2 linked regions of the Homo sapiens genome follow. Changing the gene in region 1 together with any one later gene gives a genetic interaction. Each region holds a gene or a part of one and is shown on either strand. Other genes may lie near its edges. The genes, in order: IARS2 and ATG7.

The links.
Region 2: of IARS2 (region 1) and ATG7, changing one enhances a phenotype caused by changing the other (phenotypic enhancement), as found in Homo sapiens cells (one large-scale study listed by BioGRID).

What each region holds. Positions count from the first base shown.
Region 1 is NC_000001.11:220,100,441-220,104,263, reverse strand, and holds part of IARS2 (isoleucine--tRNA ligase, mitochondrial precursor), read right to left. Parts: intron 3,775-3,823; coding exon 3,615-3,774; intron 2,136-3,614; coding exon 1,987-2,135; intron 1,902-1,986; coding exon 1,852-1,901; intron 1,770-1,851; coding exon 1,660-1,769; intron 1,578-1,659; coding exon 1,487-1,577; intron 818-1,486; coding exon 702-817; intron 1-701.
Region 2 is NC_000003.12:11,313,769-11,317,591, forward strand, and holds part of ATG7 (ubiquitin-like modifier-activating enzyme ATG7), read left to right. Parts: intron 1-1,575; coding exon 1,576-1,725; intron 1,726-3,823. UniProt on the Homo sapiens protein: E1-like activating enzyme involved in the 2 ubiquitin-like systems required for cytoplasm to vacuole transport (Cvt) and autophagy.

The sequences.
Region 1 (3,823 bases):
GGCTTACGCCTTTAATCCCAGCACTTTGGCAGGCCAAGGCAGGCAGATCACTTGAGCCCAGGAATTCCAGACCAGTCTGGGCTACACAACAAGAATTCATCTCTGTAAAATATTTTTTCAAAATTAGCCGGGTGCAGTGGCATGTGCCTATAGTCCCAGCTACTTGGGTGGCCAGGGCAGGAGGATTGCTTGAGCCCGGGAGTTTGAGGCTGCAATGAGCTGACTGGACCACTGCATTCCAGCAGTGGGCAACAGCATGAGACCCTGTCTCTTTAAAAAATAAAATAAAATAAAATTCCTTTGATAGAAGAACTGCTTTCTGAATAATTTTCAGAACTTATTCAATCCTTTATTAAAATTATGTATCGAAAAATAAGTATATGCATTTCCTTTCTTGCTACTTTTATTAAAACAGATAAAAACAATTTTAAAAATTAATTTTGCATAAAATTTTACCAAGTAACTACTGGATATTGCCAGAAATTAGTTTTACCTGTTGTACATTTATCAATATTCATATTTTTCTATACTCCTATCATGCTTAATGTATATTCTCCTTTAGTGTAATCAATGTAAAATGTATTCTAGAAAGGTAGAGGCCATATCTGTTTCAATTCAAAATATGCAGTTCAGCAAAGTAGTAAATTCAAGTCAGCCCAATACTTTGATGACTATGTTGTCAGATATCTAAAAATCTTCACCTGAAAGTGTTGAAATAGTCTCAAATGTTGTTTCCAAAGTAGAAGCAACAGATGCTACTTTATCTGCCGCCAGTACGTAGAGGTCTCCAGACTTAGAACATTTCACAACAGCATACCTAACATAAAATTTTAGGAGAAATTACTAATAATGAAACAAGAAAAGCCACAGATATCATTTTAATTTTTAAATAATCATTTTAGAAAAAACTGACTTCAGGCCAGCGCGGTGGCTCATGTCTATAATCCCAGCACTTTGGGAGGCCAAGGCAGGTGGATCACCTGAGGTTGGGAGTTTGCAACCAGCCTCACCAACATAGAGAAACCCCATCTCTACTAAAAATACAAAATTAGCCTGGCGTGGTGGCGCATGCCTGTAATCCCATAATCCCAGCTACTCGGGAGGCTGAGGCAGGAAAATTGCTTGAACCCGGGAGGTGGAGGTTGTGGTGAGCCAAGATCATGCCACTGTACTCCAGCCTGGGCAACAAAAGGCAAAACTCGGTCTCCAAAAAAAAAAAGAAAAAAGAAAAAACTGACTTCAAGATCAAACTGTACTATTTTCAAAACACTTTGTAACTTATACTTCTATTTCATTTTCCCGAAAAGCTGGATAAGGTCATAAAAAGGATCACCTAAAGGTTAATAAAATCTATATGAACATAATAACTAAGTTATAATTCATTAAATTTTACAATAATAAACAGGATAAAATAAATTCAAAATAATGTTAATAATGGAATACATTCTATTTGTGTATAAAACAAAAAATGCAATAATATACCCACTTTGATTCAGGCATATAGCAAACAGCTTCATTGGCTGGAATCGTCCAAGGTTGTGTGGTCCAGACCAAAATACTAACAGGAGATGAACCATCTGTGAAAATACAATTGTAAATATGTTAGCAAATGGGATAATTCTATAACTTTGGTACACTCAAGCTATGAATAAATCTTACCTATAAGAGATGCCAATTTTGGAGAAGGCTTTAAGAGAGGAAATTTTACATATATTGAACGACTGACATGCTCAGGATTATATTCAAGTTCTGCTTCAGCCAATGCAGTCCTAAGGGTTAAAAATATTAAACATAAATACTTGGAAGCCTCACAAATTTCTCCCTTTTAATTACCGAAAAATGCATATATACCTAGATGACGGAGACCAAAACACAGGTTTGTAAGATCGATAAACCAAGCCCTATAAAAGACAAAAATATGATGTTAAAAGTAGAATCTTGTAACGCATACTAAAACCTACTCAAAGAGAAAAAATACTTCTTTACCTTATCATACATTTGGTAAAAAGTTCTCAACTGTTTGGCTTCATACTTCCCATCAAATGTATAGTAGCAATTATTCCAATCTGCCATTATTCCCCAACGAATAAATGCTGATTTCTGTTTCTCAATGGCTGCTTTAGCAAATGATCTAGCTAAAAAAAAGACGAAAAAAAGATTTTAAAAAACCAATGAATTCGAATTCTTAAACATGGTTTAGCATGTATCTCTCTAAATGCAAATGCTACAGACAGTTTAGAATGCAAATTTTTTTTGAGACACAGTCTCGCTGTCACCCAGGCTAGAGTGCAGTGGCGCGAGTGGCATGATCTCGGCTCACTGCAAGCCTCTGCCTCCCGGGTTCACGCCATTCTCCTGCCTCAGCCTCCTGAGTAGCTGGGACTACAGGCGCCCGCCACCACGCCCGGCTAATTTTTTTGTAGTTTTAGTAGAGACGGGGTTTCACTGTGTCAGCCAGGATGGTCTGGATCTCCTGACCTCGTGATCTACCCGCCTCAGCCTCCCAAAGTGCTGGGATTACAGGCGTGAGCCACGGCGCCCGAGCACAAAATTTTTTTTTTTTGAGATGGAGTCTTGCTCTGTTGCCCAGGTTGGCATGCAGTGGCGGATCTCAGCTCACTGTAACCTCTGCCACACAGGTTCAAGCAATTCTCGTGCCTCAGCCTCCCAAGTATCTGGGACTACAGGCGTGAGCCACCATACCTGGCTAATTATTTGGTATTTTTAGTAGATACGGGGTTTTGCCATGTTGGCCAGGCTGGTCTCAAACTCCTGACCTTAGGTGATCGATCCACCTCCCTCAGCCTCCCAAAGTGCTAGGATTACAGGCATGAGCCACTGTGCCCAGCCTATAAAAATTTTTTAATAGAAAAATAATTTGAAGGTCAACAGTGTTCAGAAGATACCTACAACAAATTCTAAAATTAACTGGAATTGCAAAAGTTAAAATTTTATTACTGTCTTCTGTATTTTCCAGACTTTATACAATGACCTCATATTTAGGACAAATAAACTGGAAAAATTATTCCTTATTGTTTCTTAATTTAAGAAAAGGTCAGATAACAATTTTCATTTCATTATACACAAAAAATTAATCAGAATATCAAATCTAAGCCAATGATAATAGGTTTCACAAGGAAGTAAAAAAATCTTCACAGTTACATCCAAATGTACAATAGTATAACATATAAGAAAAAGAGAATCCTCCCTTGGCCCAGTCGACTGAAGAAAAAGGATCAAATAAAAGATTAATGTAAAATATATGTATTTTAGAATTGAATTTTGGCTTAACACCTAAAATCAGTCAACAAGCCCCCTTGAGGAAAGCAGAAAAAAGAATTTACCAAAAAATAGTTTTTTAAAATATGAACATTAAGAAACTGAGAATGCAATCAGAAATGCTCACAAAGTCTTTCCTTCAATATCCAAACATAAGTTCTTACAAAAATCAATGAAATAAAATCTGAATTTTCTGTGACAGAAAGGCGTTTCCAATAGATCTTATTATAAGCAAACGAAACCCAAACAAAAGGTTCCTTTGGTAAAGTTCTGACTATTTCAAGGACCTGAGTGTTTACAAATATCATTTTAAAACAGAAATACAGATTATTTACCTTTCTTTCTAATTTCCATAGCTGAAAGATTCTGAGCTTCTCTACCAAGTTCTGATAATACTTTTATTTCAATGGGCAACCCATGACAATCCCAGCCGGGCACAAAATGTATTTTGGAGCCATTCATCATATGGAATCGATTGGCTATGTCTTTCAAAATCTGCAAAGATAAAATGATAATTATCATTCATACATAAAATATTTGGCCA
Region 2 (3,823 bases), on another chromosome or scaffold:
GTTTGTCTTTTAATAGATATGGGGTTTTGCCATGTTGGCCAGGCTGGTCTTCAACACCTGGGCTCAAGCAATCTGTCCACCTCAGCCTCCCAAAGTGCTGGGATTACAGGCATGAGCCACCCTGCCTGGTCTGTAAAGTCATTTTGAAGATGTAGTGCACAGTAATTTTCCAGGTTTTCAGTGGTATTTGGTGAAATGCTAAGCCAGTAAGGGGGAATTATAGGAATATTTTGAAACACTGAAAGAATTTACCAAAATGTGGTCTTCATTTTCAATGTGGGGAAACATAAGGCAGTATAGTCTGGGAAAGAGTCTTTGAAACAAAACAGAAGGCATTCTCCTACCCTTGTACCAAGTTGCAGAACTTTTCTACCTGGAGCAGTACATGCAGAGTTAGTCGGTGACATTTGGGATAGATAATAAGTTCATTAGAGATGGTTCCCAGAAGAGCAGTTAAAATAATCAGGCTGGTATAACAGAGACCCTAAACTAGAGAATTCTTATTGTTGTTAAGGCAAAGATTATGTGTCAAGATGATTTGAATTCTTGAAACACATCAATCACTAAAGCCCTGAATACTGATGCCATCATTCAGGGAGCTCTCTTGGAGCTGTTCAGGGAGCAGCCATTATTGATTAAATTTTTTTTGTTGTTGTTCGTACAAATCCGAGGTTGTGGTTTTGTGGAACTAATTTCCCAAGAGGAAATATAAGTAAGGAAAAAGGATTTTGGCTGAGTATTGACTGCTGGCAGGTATGGGGTTTCTTTTATTGAGGACAAAAATGTTCTGTAATTATTGCTGTGGTGCTTGCATAACCCTGTGAACATACTAAAAAAACAAACAGCACATTGCATTATGTACTTTAAATGGGTGAATTGGGCCAGGCACGGTGGCTCACAACTATAGTGTAATTCCAGCACTTTGGAACGCAGAGGTGAGCATACCACTTGAGCTCAGGAGTTCAAGACCAGCCTGGGCAATATCGTGAAACCCCATCGCTATAAAAAATACCAAAAAAGTTAGCTGAGCCATGGTGGTGTGTGCCTGTGGTCCCAGCTACTCAGGAGGCTGAGGTAGGAGGATTGATTGAGCCCAGGAGGTCGAGGCTGCAGTGAGCTGTGATTGCCTGGGTGACAGAGCAAGACCCTGTCTCAAAAAGTAGTAAATGGGTGAGTTGTATGGTATGTTAGTCATGTCTCAGTAAAGCTGTTGAAGATTATGGAAAGGTTCGGGGTAAAATTCATCAGGGGTAGATTCATGTTGGGTTATCATAGGAGAGAAAGAATGTTTCGTTACCGCTCTAAAACTCTGATTGACAGCTTAGGGAACTACCATGTTGTAGTCCCTTTGTGCCCCTAAGACACACACCACCATGCCCCTGGAAAGTGTTATATAAAAGCTAAGTGGTATTATTTGGAGGCACTTCTATGTTCACTTGCTGTAATAGAGTAAGAGGAGTGTGATCAGTCATTTCTAGTCTTCTGGTTTTAAGGTACCTTTTTTTTGAGTTAGTTTTTAGCCCAGAACTAGAAATGTAATTTTCTAGAGAATAACAACGTGTTTTCTGTTTTCAGATTGAAGCACTAGAGTGTGCATATGATAATCTTTGTCAAACAGAAGGAGTCACAGCTCTTCCTTACTTCTTAATCAAGTATGATGAGAACATGGTGCTGGTTTCCTTGCTTAAACACTACAGTGATTTCTTCCAAGGTCAAAGGACGAAGGTCAGATAAACTTTGAGTATCATTTTATTATATAGTTTTTTAAAAAATCTGAAGTTCATGTTACAAGAGACCACTGCAAAATTCAAACTTGTTTAGATTTCCTTAGCCTTCAAAGGATGTTTAAGAACATTTCCTTATCTCTATCCTCTCCCACCCCTACAGTTATCGAATCAGCTCCTCTAGGTTTTTCTAGCTCTACTACAGCTCAGAATAATTTTGATACCTTACTCTTTTTTTTTGTTTGTTTGTTTGAGATGGAGTCTCGCACTGTTGCCTGGGCTGGAGCGCAGTGGCGCAATCTTGGCTTACTGCAACCTCTGCCTTCCTGGTTCAAGCGATTCTCCTGGTCAGCCTCCCGAGTAGCTGGGACTATAGGTGCCCGCCACCATGCCTGGCTAATTTTTTGTATTTTTAGTAGAGACAGAGACGAGGTTTCACTATGTTGGCCAGGTTGGTCTTGAATGCGTGACCTGCTTCGGCCTCCCAAACTGCTGGGATTATAGGTGTGAGCCACTGTGCCCAGCCAATACCTTACTCTCTATTAGTGCTAAAGTTATTTCCGTTTTCCCTCCTGATGTATTTTACCCTCTATGTTTTAATTTTTATTCCCAGAACTACCCTGTAGTTCAGGCCCCTCATATCACACTCCTGGACACTTAGAATCTTGTTTCCATGTTGTGCAACACTACTGTAGAAGAATCTCCCTTGAACTACCCACATTTAGTGTATCATTCATTGACCAAGAGCATAATGGTGTCTTCCTTCTGGCTCCAAGCTGCCTTTCCTGCCTTATCTTCCATTATTTTCCTCATAAAGCATTGCTCCAGCTAATCTTATCTATTTTTCTCCAGAATCTCCATCCCCTTCCCGTCAGATACATCTAAAACTTTTTTTGTATCTTTGTTTTTCCTCGTGTTGTATCATCTTCCTAAAACATGTTCTACTTGTGAAAACCCTAAGAAATTCTCTCTGTCTTATTGAAATTCTATCTCCACTGTGAAGCATTATCATGGTGTGGCCATATATGATCTATCCCTATCTGAAGTCACTGCATTTATTCCCTGATCCTCATTTGCAGGTCCAGTACCTTGTACAAGTTTCTTTTTGTGCCATATTAGACTGTAAGCTCCAAGAGGGCAGGGCCCAAGTCTTATGAATTTGTGTCTGCATAGTGTCTAGTACTTGTCTGAGGCCCTCAATAAAATTCTTTTGAGTGAATGAAAGAGTACCGTAAATGTCTTTTAGAAGTGATCAGATATATAGGAAGTTGTCTTAGCCATACAGGAGACTATGAATTAAAAATATCAAAGATTATGAGTGTTATGAAGTTCTGAAATCAAATGGAATCATCTCCATAGCCATGTGAATATATCAGAGCTGAAAAAAGGAAAGCCTTTAACTGACGGTCTGGTTATTCTTTAGCCTGAACTTAGGATGACTTTTTTTTTTAAAAGCACATTTTAAAATCAACTACATTTACATTTTATTTTTCAGAGGAAGCCCACCTCCCCTTTTTTGTTGTATTTTTATTAGAGATGGGGTTTCACCGTGTTAGCCAGGATGGTCTTGATCTCCTGGCCTTGTGATCCGCCCACCTCGGCCTCCCAAAGTGCTGAGATTACAGGCGTGAGCCACCACTCCTGGCCCAGAGGAAGCCCTTTTTAAATTGAGGACTGAAGATTGAATTTTTATTAAAATTCTTTCCCCCAGGTGATTTCACAGAACCACAGCTAAATTAGTATAGCAATAAGACCGTTAATAATTTAAAGTCCAATCTAGTGTGAAGTCCTCTTGTCATAGCAGGCAGGATTAAATGGCCTGTGTTTGGAAGCGACCGTAGGTCAGGTTGTATGTGGTAAATAAGTGGTCCTCCCCAAAGTGCAGCTCTGCCAAAATAATAACAGTTTGAACAGTGCTTTACAATTAATTTAAAAGGGACTTTCACATACTTGATCTTTTTATGATAAGTCTGTGAAACAAGCGTTAGTTACTACCTGTGGTTAGTTAATTAGTATCTGCATTTTCTGTTTGAGACTCAAAGTCACACGACCACATTGTCTGATTCCGAAGCCTATGCCCTTTCTTTCTTTCTTTTTTT